Homo sapiens: one gene and its partners. The protein of the gene in region 4 purifies or fractionates together with the protein of the main gene of each other region. This does not show direct contact. Each region holds a gene or a part of one and is shown on either strand. Other genes may lie near its edges.

Region 1 (3,500 bases), on a different chromosome or scaffold from region 4:
TACTCCAACCTCACCCTCCTGGCAGCAGTGATAAGTTCTGCCAGTTAGTGTTCCATGTGGAACTGCTGAGACTTTATTAGGAGAAATGCCATTAAAAATAATAAGATACCAAAGGTGGAAGACACAGCCCATAAAACAAGAGTATGAGGGGCAAGGTGGTTGGCAGGCTTCAAGACAAAGGTAGACAAATAACTTTCGGAGTTCAGAGGGAAGATACAAGCCAAAAGAGTACCAAGGTGACATTTTAAAGAACTGTCCACTTCCACTTTGTCTGCCTGGTTTTATATGAAGTGCTGTCAGCACAGCCTTTTCAATCATGTTGCCTGGATTGAACATAACTCACTTTCATATGTACCTTTAATTTCAGATCCCAACCTTTGTCCTCCTAATTCCTACAAAGTAAACTAAACAGACCAGCAAATGTTGACTTAACGATTACATTTTTACATAGAAGGATATAGAACTTACCACTCTTTTTTCCCTGAAATCAATGCCCACTGTTGTGATAAATTTGGAGTTAAATTTACCATCTGTATATTGGTAAAGTACACTGGTCTTCCCTACACCAGAGTCTCCCAAAGCTAAAAACTTGATGAGGTAATCATAATCTCCATCAGACATAATGAAGAACTCAGTAGTTCACCTGTAAAATACACACAAAATTTTTTAATTAAAATCCATTAGAAAACATTAATTATCCATTTAAAAAGTGACAACAATATTCAGTTTAACACCTAATGTTAACCTGTATGTCTACGGGTTGTATGAAAAGAGAGTTACATACATATTGTTCACCATCCTTGAAGACCTAATAACTAGCTAGATGAGAAGCTATTGAAATAGTAATTAACAGTGTAGTTTTAATTTAACACACAGGTAATCCCAGCACTTTGGGAGGCCAAGGTGGGCAGATCACCTAAGGTTGGGAATTCGAGACCAGCCTGACCAACATGGAGAAACCCCATCTCTACTGAAAATACAAAAATTAGCCAGGCATGGTGGTGCATGCCTATAATCCCAGCTACTCAGGAGGCTGAGGCAGGAGAATCACTTGAACCTGGGAGGTGGAGGTTGCAGTGAGCCAAGATTGCGCCATTGCACTCCAGCCTGGGCAACAAGAGCAAAACTCTGTCTCAAAATAAAAAAATAAATAAAAATAAAAATAAAAATAAAAACATACATATTATAGTACCATTAGGACAAAAATTTCAAGTGGGAATGATAATCAACAAGAAGGTAACAGTCACTAAGTCTTATCTGTAGACCATATAGAACAAAAACTAATACAAGAAAAACAGAGGAAAGAGAATGTTATAAGGAATAACAGTAATCATTAGAGTGCAAGTGGTTCCAATTTCCCCTCCTTTTTCAAAGTCTCCTAGTGCTAAAATTTGCAATTGCAAACATAAGGAACCAGTCCAAATGCTCACCAGTCAATGAGTAGATAAAGAAATTGTGGTACACCACAATTTTTTTATCTGTATATATATACACACACCACGGAATACTACTCAGCCACAAAAAGGAACGAAATAATGGCATTCACAGCAATCTGGATGGAATTGAAGACAATTATTCTAAGTGAAGTAAGTCAGGAATGGAAAACCAAACATCATATGTTCTCACTCATATGTAGGAGTGAAGCTATGAGGAAGCAAAGGCATAAGAATGATACAATGGACTTTGGGGACTCGGGTGGAAAGGGTGGGAGGCGGGTGAGGGATAAAAGACTACAGATTGAATACAGTGTACACTGCTTGGGTGATGGGTGCACCAAAATCTCAGAAATCACCACTAAAGAACTTATCCATGTAACTAAACACCACCTGTTCCCCAAAAACCTATGGAAATAAAAAAAAAAGAAAGAAAGAAAGTCTCCTAGTGCTAGAACCTTGCCTTTTCTCTCTTTTTACATGGACATCTAGGCAATTTCATTTATTCTATTCATTTTCACATGTTATTACGGTTCCTTCAAAGACACTGTTATTTCACAAGTAAATTTAGTCCCTGCTTCCTTACATATTACTATTAATATGTACTACATATTAAGCCAGACTTCTCTAGAGTATCACTGCTCACTTGGGAACTGAGTTCCAGATTTGAACAGTCACTGCTCAGAGACCACAGTGCCACAACCAAGGGCTCGCTTACCTATGTTTACCTGGGTACTCTATCAAGAACTGCTAAAAATTCAGCTCTTCAGTACCGACTAAAACAAAAGTCCACCTTAAAGAAGAAAAATTCATTTATATCAGCAATACCTAACCACGGCTATTTTTGGTTCTTTGCAATCAGCACTTTTCATGATTTGTATTTACCTTCTAAATAGATTCAAACCCAAAATATCAGTCCAACTAGAAATGGGATCTCTCTCCAGGGGAGGTTTACTTTTTCATTAAAATTTTATTGATACATAATATTTGTATATTTTTATGGGGTACATGTAATATTTTGTTACATGCATAGAATGTAATGATCACATGAAGGTATTTAGGGTATTTATTTCCTCGAGTATTTATCATTTCTATGCATTGAGAACATTTCAAGTCCTCTCTTCTAGCTATTTTAAAATACACAATACATTTTTGTTAACTATAGTCACCCTAGTCTACTGTTGAACATTAGAACTTATTCTTTCCATCTAACCATATGCTTGTACACATTAACCAACCTCTCTCCGTTTCCCCCGCCAATGCCAATAAACTCTCCTGAAAATCATAAAAACAACTAGCTATCTCATTAACACTGACGACTCTACATGACTATTCAAACATACATATTTATCCATCTATACACATGCCAGATGTCCTACATTGGATGCTACTGACTCCCGGCGTTATCCCCTTTTTACCCAGCACCATATCCAGAAACTTGGCTGCCATATTCAGTGCTTCCTGTAGGACTATTTCTATATATCCATAAAATTAATAAAAACTCAGACAAGAATATTTACTGGTTTTCAGTGTTACCTCCCTCACCCCATCCTCAACTTGGGGACTCACCTTATGCTGAAAACTCCTGAATGCTGAGCCCCAAAAGCCACTGCAGTGTGTTTCCTCAGAGTGCTTCAGTGCAGATCTGCAACCTCACGTTTCAGGTATGGCTAGCCCGTGGATAAGGGCAGAGCCTCTACAAACATTCAAAATTCTATTTGCACACTATAAAGAGTGACACTTCACAGATGATGCCTTACCTGTCTTTATAGCTTGGATATTTGCAAGTATAGGTCACCAGTATTAATGACATATAACAGAATTCCTCTCCAAAAAACGACAACTTGGACATCAACATTATAGCACGTCATATCACAGCATCACACCTGGCTCTAAGTTATTGGAAATAAGAGCTAAGAATTGAAAAGCAAGTCCAGATAATGTTGACTCATTTGAGGGCTTCCCCTCAAACTGAATGGAGCAGCAGATAACAATACCGATCCTGCAGTGAGAATGATGCAAGAAGACACTGTGACTACCTTATTTCCTATTTATTTTTAATTTGAA
Region 2 (3,500 bases), on a different chromosome or scaffold from region 4:
GGACCCAGGGATACTGTCAGCTCCTCAAGTCACTTTTAGAAGGTCAGAGAAAAATTGTTTTGATCGTTAGTTACTGAAAAATGGTCAAACTGTGGCAGACTGGGGCATTCTTCCAAGAGGACTCCTTTAAACAGATTTCAATCCATACCACTAACCTACACTGTCACCAAACAGAGGGTGTGTGTGCTGCATGCTGACAGCTCTTTCCAGCATCTCCAGAAACTTCTCCAAGTAGCAAAGCAGTGCAGTTTAAAATGTTAGAATTTGGCCAGGCTCAGTGGCCCACGCCTGTATTCCCAGCACTTTGGGAGGCCAGAGTGGGCAGATGACTTGAGGCCAGGAGTTCGAAACCAGCCTGGCCAACATGGCAAAACCCTATCTCTACTAAAAAGACACAAATTAGCAGGGCACAGTGGCACGCACCTGTAATCTCAGCTACTTGGGAGGCTGCGGCAGGAGTATTGCTTGAACCCGGGAGGCGGAGGTTGCAGTGAGCTAAGATCACGCCACTGCACTCCAGCCTGGGCGATGAAGCGAGACTATGTCTCAAAAATAAAATAAAATGTGAGAATTCCATATACAAACACATGTGTGATCACATCACCATCAAGATACCGCAGGCCAGTCCTCCCTGTGATGAGGTGACACGGCCCCGCATGGCTCCACGATGGCCCCAGACAGCCTTCCCGGTCTACTCGCTGAGGCGCTTAGGTGCTCCTCCACCTGTTTTCCCACCTCTGGTGTGCAGCTTTGCTGACGTCACACGAACTTCATGGGGCTGACAGGGTGAGGGCTGCCGGGTGTTCATCTGGTGGGTGGCAAAACCCCAGCTGGCCCTCAGTCCCGACGCCCACAACGGGCAGTACCCAGGGGCCAGGCACATCACCCACCAACGTGCTTTAGCTGCTGTTTACTTGAAATTGACATACAAATCTCAGTTCTCTAAGAGAACCTGAATGCTCCCCACAGCCGTGGAAAACAGCCTGTTCAGGGCACTCGCAGTGGGGGAAAGTGCTCTGTCCTCTGTGATTCTGTTGGTCTTTTGTTCTAACAAGATAGTTGGGATTCTGTGATTCTTTTGTTTTTGATAAGGTCCTAGGTTCAGAAGGAGGGGCAGCTTTCGAACAGCGGTGCATGGTAGGTCTGACCCTAACAACAGAAGCAACCAGGGAACGTTTATAGGCCCCTGGCCATGCCGGGCAGTCTGGGAGCTTACAGATATTAACTCAGGTCTCCCCACCACGACATGTCAACACAGCATTCTTATCCCCCCACTTCACACAGGAGGACTGAGGTAAGAGACCCTGCACCCTCTTCTTCCCCATGGACTCTGGTCAGTGTGCCCCTGGGCTGAGGCCCCAGCTTTCTCTCCTGGATCTGTGACTCGGGGTAGGGTCAGCAGAGACACCACCAGGTGCTCACAGCAACAGCAACAGCAACAATGCCTCCGGGGAGGCAGGAGGCAGATGGGAAGGTGACCTGCGGCTGCCCCAACCCAGGGACCCTCCCTACTGGGCATCGCTGTGGGGGCCCTGGAAGTTCTGCCTACAAGACTGTCATGGAAAGCCTTTTCTTTCAGGAGCATGATCCAAAGGTCACTGCACATCCCCTCCCAACCCTGTCCCAGTGGTGGGGTGTGGGGGACAATGAGCTGCTTGTCCTGTGTGCTTCCAAGTGGGGCAAAACCAGGCAGCATCCTGCTGTTTAGCTGCACCTGAGATGATACCTGGGGGCTATGCGAGGAAACAGGACAGGAGATGTTCAGGAACGTGCCCAAGTCCAACAGCCATGACGCGGAGAGCCAGAACAGGACGTAGCAGCCTGGTCCGGGGCTGTGCTCCCACGGCCCCAGCCCTGCGCCCTCCCAGGGTGCTCAACTTCCAGCCCTGTCCTGTGCAGACACAGGGCCTCTCGAGCTGTGTGTCTGCAGGAACTCAAGCCACCAGCGTAGAAAACCAACTCCCCGTTCCAGAAGGAATCAAGCATGTGACGTTGAGCACACAGACACCCACTACGACTCCCCGACTCCCATACCCCACGGGGACAAAAGCATGAGCGTGGCCCTGCCTGATGCCTACCCAGCTGCTGGAGCTTGGGGAGCAGGTGCACAACAAAAAGGCGGTAGTCAGGCTCAACCTTCACCACGGGGTTCAGCCGGAAGTCCACATCCACGAGCTCGGTTAAGGCGTGGAGCCGAAACACTTCTGCCAACGAGGAGATGCAGTTGTAGTAGAGATTGAGACTCTCCAATGCAGTCAGGTACTGAATGCCCTGTCAACAGAAAACACAGTGAATTCATTCACACTTTAAACAAGAAATACACAGTGAAATAAGCCAGCAACACACACTGACCAACCAACTGTATAAACTTATTTGCAATAACTCCATGTCATTACCAGGAAAAGTAGAAAAATGAAACGTTCTCATCTGTGAAGTTCTCTGGGCCCCACGCGGTGAGACGGTCGTTTATGGAACCCACATGTGACGCAACTAAGCACAGCTAATATCTACCGAGGCCTCAGCGTGCAGCAAGCTGAGTGATGTGCACGCACAATTTCATTTAATCCACACGCCGCCCTACAGGGTGAGAACCATCAGCCCCCCCTTCACAGATGAGAAAGCTGAGGCCTGGGAACGGGGAAAGATGAGGCAGCACTGGGTGTAGCCTGGGCTAGGTCCGCATCTGACTTGGAGCAGACTCCCGAGCTGGTGTCAGACGTGGCCTCCATAATGCTCAGGCACCAGGCTCAGGGCAGGCGCATCCCACGGTTCTGTCCGGGCCAATCAGGCCATGCAGACGCAGCCTCCATAATGCTCAGGCATCGGGCTCAGGGCAGGCGCATCCCACGGTTCTGTCAGGGCCAATCAGGCCATGGTAGTTGTGCACAGCTCCCCTCACCACCACCTAGGCATCTCTCTCCAGGGTGACCCTGCCAGGAGCCCAGGAGGCAGCCCCAGGCCCACTGCACTGCCACTCAGTAAGTCTCTGGGGTCTCATTTCATTTCCTTTAAAGATATAATCATCGTCATCAGAGGGCGACAACACAACGTAACGTGATGTGTATGAAATGTAGCCCACGGTAAACACAAAAATACGCAACACAAAGTGTACCGTATACAGATGTAAGCAGAGGGTTACAAAACAGACTCCGTTTCTGCTGTGAATGGACTTTCCACTGATGTTGATAGCAATAAATTTTAAGAAAGAGACCTAAAACTTACCTCCAGACTAACCAAGGAGTTGCGCGAGAGATCCAAAGATTTCAGACCTGTTAAACTCATCAGAGAATGTCCCAGGTGGGTGATCTTCTCTTGGTAAGTTCCAGGAATAGACAATGACTGAAGCTCAGCTAAGAATAGAAAAATTGTAAGATTTTAATCTTTTATTTTGAAAACAATTATAATAACGGTCAAGTTCTTGGTGTTGGATATGGAGTAGAAACTGACACAGATTCTTGGTTTAATTCAACTTTACTCAGGCTCCTGAATCTTCTCCTCGG
Region 3 (2,333 bases), on a different chromosome or scaffold from region 4:
GGAGGAAGGAATATATCTATCTAGTAAGAATTTTAATGTATCATTATTCCTTTATGTCTTCAAGCAGGCCTTCTGATAGGAAGTGAAAACAGTTATCAACTAATTTGGATATTAAATACATCATTCAATAGTTCAATGAATAAAAGATAAAAGTTAAAAGGGCTTTTTCCAAGTATGAGTCAAATTCTATACTTCATTTAAGAAGTGTTTTTTTATCTTGAGATTTTATATAAGATCCACAGTCAGGGAGGTTACCAGAGCTTGCCAGCAAAGTTGGAAGGCCCAGTGGTTACAATACCTGAGGATGTAAAGTGACTAGTAGTTTGGCAGGTAACTGTGAAATTACATTAAGCCAGGTAAGTTAAAGATCTTTGAACTCCAGTATACATAAAAGAAGTCTCTGAGATGTTTTGGCAGTGCTTTTATTACTAGGGCTAAGTCAATTCTGGAGGCCCTTACTACTTTTTCAAGTTCCAGAATTTTCTGACTCAAGTTTTCTGCAAGTGAAGGTTTCTTCTAGGCTCCATAGGAGCCCGGAGGGGACTCAGGGATGCCAGCCAACACAGAGGCAACTTCAGTCACCTGTGTAGAGAACCGTGCTTGGTACTGTCGCCAAGAGATCCTTGGTACATTCAAGAGTGTAGAGTGCTGACTTTGGAAGGCGATGGTACCACTTCTGAGGAGAAGCTCCGTAAGAGGTTTGAGGCAAATTGGAGGAGCCTCCTAAGTTAAATGTGTATCCAGACCTATTGCTTAAAAACAAAGTTCCTAGTGCAGATGATACACACTTGGAGAAATCAAAGTCTTTAAAAAGCAGTATGCAAACGAGAACATCTCTTCACAAGAAAGAAACATTTAAAATACACATCTTCGTTTCATTGTAGACACCGGCAGCTATTCTTCATCCACTGATTGAAGCTTTCCACATTTCTCTGGAAGGCTTGCACTTAATATTTTATTGCTTTTGTTTCCAAATTCAGAGGGAGAGGCAGGTTCATCTGTTTCATAATCTTCAAAGCTGAAATAACAAAGCAAAAGTGAATTAACTGATTGATTGATTAAAGTTTGGGTAGAAATCAATATGGCAAATCCGAGCCTCAAGACCAGCCCACAAAGGTACCTTGAATTGCTAAATGGAGGCCGTGAGCAACTCAACTGCCGTGAAGGAGGCAACACTCTAGAGCAGAAAACACATTCTTCTCCCTGTTCCTTAAAGCTTAAGTCCATGTCAGAATTTGTTGAAAATGTTCCGTATCAAGCTTTCCCTAGGGTGGTTGGTGGGAGTGAGAGAATTACAGATGGTGCTAGGTAAAGAAAAATTTGAGGTCCATGAAGTATGAGCATTACTTGACCTTATTAAAAGTGGTTTCCACTCAGAGTGGCAAACCTTTTTTTTTTTTGAGACGGAGCCTTGCTCTGTCACCCAGTCTGGAGTGAAGTGGCACGATCTTGGCTCACTGCAACCTCTGCCTCCCAGGTTCAGGCGATTCTCCTGCCTCAGCCTCCTCAGTAGCTGGGACTACATGCATGCGCCACCACACCTGGCTAAGTTTTGTATTTTTAGTAGAGATGGGGTTTCACCATGTTGGCCAGGCTGGTCTGGAACTCCTGACCTCAGGTGATCTGCCCACTTTGGCCTCTCAAAGTGCTGGGATTACAGGCTTGAGCCACTGGTCGGCCAGAGTGGCAAACTTTCTCAACTCTCAGATTGCTTTATAGCTTCCCTCCGTGGCTTCCAAGCAACACAAAAAGATGTTCAAGTATGTAGGTTGAACTGACTAAAGTGCATTTATGGATTTCCCATCATTCTACTTTTTAGGTCTCTATAGCATACCTGGACCTGGATACTCATCCTGGGAAGATGTCCTTCTGCTAAACCTTTTAGGTGTTGCTGGTATCCCCTGAATTCTGTATCCTCCAGGCTACCCCTAAGGTTGGCTTTAGGCAGAGATGAAATATTTTCTCTTGGAAATGATGTGGCTGCCTGAAATATTGATAAATATTCTGAGGCTATATCTCTGAGCCTCATATGTAGATATGTACATCAGAAAAATGTACATCAGCAATGTCTATTATAGTATTTGACATCACTGGCTTAGCCCTTGCAGGGATCTCCCACAATATTTAAGCAGGAATTTGTGGACATACAGTCCCTTCATCAAAAAGGTACCAATTGGGGCCAATTAGTGAGGGAAAATATGCTGAGGTAGGTATATACAGTAAGTGGCACCTATTCAAGTTCCTAAAACATTGTGTGTGTTTTTTCTTTTGAGATGGAGTCTCGCTGTGTCGCCCAGGCTGGAGTACAGTGGGGCCATCTTGGCTCATTGCAA
Region 4 (3,500 bases):
AATTGTCAAGAGTGCCTTCCCTTTTATTTAACTCCAAACCACACTCAACAAAGCTTTCTTTTCTTGGTGGCTTACTCTGGTCATCATCTTTTTTTGTTTCCTCCTTTTCTGAAAAGATCTTCAATGGATTTAACCTGCTGAAAACCGACTTTATAACTGAACTCTGACTCTGTGGAGCCAAGTCCTTTGCAATACTTTCTGTTGTATTCTGAAAGTATAAACTCCCAGTTTTATTACCCATGTGCTCATTTTCAGAGGTTTTTCTATGTCTGTCTATATTCACATTATCATCTTTTTGAGAGGATAATGGAGATTGCATGGAAAGATCCTTCCCCAATACTGCCATGGCTCTGGGTTTAGATCCCAAATTAATTGCCTCTATTTGATTAAGAGTTTCTGTTTTTTCTGGAACTAAGGAAACCAACTTTTCCACAGAGTTTGTTAGATGCTTTGTGCCTGAACCCACTTTTTCTGTGAGTGAACTAAACAAAGAACCAACAGCACATTGTACTCCAGTCAACTCAGGGAAAGAGATGGCCGTGTCCTTGTCATTCTTGACAATAGTTAAAGGTGGTATTTGATCCCCAGGCGTTCTCTGTTCTGCATCAAGAGTACTATTTTGTTTATGTGATTTTTTAGTTTTTGAAAGTGAACCAAATCTATTAATCTCCTCTTCCTTCTCTGCTAAATATTCTGACACCGTTTCTACCAAACACTGAAGCTCATCCATTGTATCAATACGGTCCTCCTTGGGCTCCTCAATAGAGGAAGGGGTTATCTCTTCTATAGAGCACTCAGACAGATCTCCAAGTGTTTTTGCATCACAATTCATCCTTTGTAATGGCAATGCTGAATTTGCTACATAATATTCCTCAGGAAAATCTCCAATATGGTGGACATTGGATGAATGCCATGTTGGTGACTGTAAATTTTCCTGCTTATCAGAAATGGGGGAACCCAGAAGTTCATCAGAAGTACTACTAGTAGAATCTTCAAGAATATCTAATGAGGTAAAATTAGTGACATGCTGGTTTGAGCCAGATGACTTTTCACAGTGCCTTAAACAACTGGACAGATCATAATCATGACTTTCCAACTTAATGCGCTGCATGCCACTCTTAACCACAAATCCATTTTTGTAGGGGTACAAAACTGGGTACCCCATATTTTGTTTCTTTTCAGTATGGCAAAGGGTACAATTTTCAGTATTAGAATATGTACTTTTGTAGTTAGTCTTAGTTTCAGATCTCTCACCATATTGCCTTCTTTCACTGTCTTCAAAATGATTGTATAAGGATTTCTTTTTTCTTCTTCTATCTAGTGTATCATATTTCTGAGCATACCTGGAGAAAACAGAAGTTTCAACCTTAAACTCAGTAGAGAATTCTGTTTGTTGGCTCTGAGGTGGTATCTTTTTCCTGTTCTTATACTTTGGTTGTTTTTGTTGGCTGTAGTATTTATCAGCTTTTGAAAGGGTTCTAATTTCTTTTATCTCTGCTTCCTTCAAGTTTATGTTATTATTTTCTAGAAACTCTTGTGATATTTTCCCCTCTATCTCCTTATGTATATCTTCTTGCTCTTCATAGTCAACATCAGAGAAAGCTGAAATAATCCTAATTTTTTCATCTTTAGCCTGTGAGCCTTGTCTGATGTGAAGGGATAAAATTGGAGGAACAATAAAGCAAAGAAAAAGGAAGAGACAGGGAAAAGGAAGAAAGAAGTTATAAGATTTAATACATGTTCAATGAGAAGACTAGAACAATAAAATTGCCAATGTGATAAAAAGCATTCAGACTAAAAAAATATGAAAAGGAAATCCACATGTTCTTAAATATTATATCAATGTAGTCAAATAGTTTATTCCATATGAGAAAAAGAACAGCTATAATATCAATTTTTAAATGCTTCAACTTGCAATCATTTTTCATTGGTGAGCTTTTTAGAATTCTTTTATTTTTCTAAGAAACAAATGAAAAAAATGAAACATGTTGTACCAATATCTAGAATGTATTTGCAATATTAAAGTATACCAGCAAAATATATCAAGGGATTTCAAGAAAACGAAATTTGCTGATAAATTTTTAGTCTAAAAAGAAGCCAAGCTGTTAACTTTCTGAAAGTTATATTTGAGGATGTGTAGCCAAGAATATAGTCAAACATATTTCTTTTAATAAGAAAAAAATACATATAAAACCATTTTTTACTATCAGCAGAAGTCAAACTTTGTTATACTACAAAAAAATAACAAATTATTTAAGGCCTTATAATTTTTTTTTGAGACGGAGTTTTGCTCTTGTTGCCCAGGCTGGAGTGCAATGGCACATTCTCAGCTCATTGCAATGTCCGCCTCCTGGGTTCAAGCAATTCTCCTGCCTCAGCCTCCCGAGTAGCTGGGTCTACAGGCACCCACGACTAGGCCCAGCTAATTTTTGTATTTTTAGTAGAGGTGGGTTTTCACCATGTTGGCCAGGCTGGTCTTGAACTCCTGACCTCAGGTGATCCACCCGCCCTCAGCCTCCCAAACTACTGGAATTACAGGCATGAGCCACCATGCCCAGCCTAAGGCATTATAATTTGTTGTTTGTGAAATCTAAAGGCTATATGCATTGAGGATCACAGTGAAAAGAAAATCTTTCCCTATACTGATTATAGCAGCAGAAGCTACATGCCCACCTTAAAACAATGAATACTGAAGATAGCCTGAACTTTCTTTCACTTAGATTAAAGACTGCCTTCTTCTGTGTACCAAGGTAGGGATGGAGAAAGAACCTAAAGGCTAGGAGCTTATGAGTTCAGTGTGTTCTTTATAGATATAACATCCAAAAGCATTCATTTAGGAAACAGAAGCAAGATCAAAGCAGACACTTAGTCACTAAAAATCTTCCAGAAGGCCAGGTGCAGTGGCTCTCACCTGTAATCCAAGCACTTTCGGAGGCCAAGGCAGGAGGATCACTTGAACCCAGGAATTCAAGACCGGCCTGAGCAACAACGCAAGACCCTGTGTCTAAACTCACCATGTAGCAGTTTGGTGAGGTGGGCAAGAAAAGGACATCATCCTATGGTCTGGTGAATTTTGTATTGATTGACTGAGACAGAGTCTTGCTCTGTCATCCAGGCTGGAGTGCAGTGGTGCAATCTTGGCATACTATAGCTTCGACCTCCCAGACTCAAGCAATCTCTCCCAACTCAGCCTCCCAAGTAGCTAGGACCATAGGCATGCGCCACCACATCCAGCTAATTTTGTTTATTTTTTGTAGAGATGAGGTTTCACTATATTTCTCAGGCTGGTCTCAAGCTCTTGGACTCCAGTGATCCTCCCGCCTTGGCCTCCCAAAGTGCTGGGATTATAGGCATCAGTCACTGCACCTAGCCAGTCTAGTGAATTTTAGAAACTAAAAGGATAAGCTAAATTGGAATGATTTCTTGAAAACTAACCTCCAATCAATAAAATAATTGATTCAGGCACGGATCAATGGATGCTAATATCATTGAGTAAAAGA

What was found. The genes of interacting proteins can lie anywhere in the genome.
Region 1: the proteins of UNC13B (region 4) and RAB27A purify together in Homo sapiens (affinity purification with western blotting, with the first as the bait; one study listed by BioGRID). This does not show direct contact.
Region 2: the proteins of UNC13B (region 4) and CEP72 purify together in Homo sapiens (co-immunoprecipitation; one large-scale study listed by IntAct). This does not show direct contact.
Region 3: the proteins of UNC13B (region 4) and PPP2R3A purify together in Homo sapiens (co-immunoprecipitation; one large-scale study listed by IntAct). This does not show direct contact.

Annotation. Positions count from the first base shown.
Region 1 is NC_000015.10:55,234,314-55,237,813, forward strand, and holds part of RAB27A (ras-related protein Rab-27A), read right to left. Parts: intron 3,130-3,500; exon of another isoform or gene 2,152-3,129; intron 644-2,151; 5' UTR 622-643; coding exon 469-621; intron 1-468. UniProt on the Homo sapiens protein: Small GTPase which cycles between active GTP-bound and inactive GDP-bound states. In its active state, binds to a variety of effector proteins to regulate homeostasis of late endocytic pathway, including endosomal positioning, maturation and secretion.
Region 2 is NC_000005.10:618,840-622,339, reverse strand, and holds part of CEP72 (centrosomal protein of 72 kDa), read right to left. Parts: intron 3,351-3,500; coding exon 3,223-3,350; intron 2,272-3,222; coding exon 2,079-2,271; intron 1-2,078. UniProt on the Homo sapiens protein: Involved in the recruitment of key centrosomal proteins to the centrosome.
Region 3 is NC_000003.12:136,143,728-136,146,060, reverse strand, and holds part of PPP2R3A (serine/threonine-protein phosphatase 2A regulatory subunit B'' subunit alpha), read right to left. Parts: intron 1,019-2,333; coding exon 895-1,018; 3' UTR 1-894. UniProt on the Homo sapiens protein: The B regulatory subunit might modulate substrate selectivity and catalytic activity, and might also direct the localization of the catalytic enzyme to a particular subcellular compartment.
Region 4 is NC_000009.12:35,298,009-35,301,508, reverse strand, and holds part of UNC13B (protein unc-13 homolog B), read right to left. Parts: intron 1,344-3,500; coding exon 1-1,343. UniProt on the Homo sapiens protein: Plays a role in vesicle maturation during exocytosis as a target of the diacylglycerol second messenger pathway.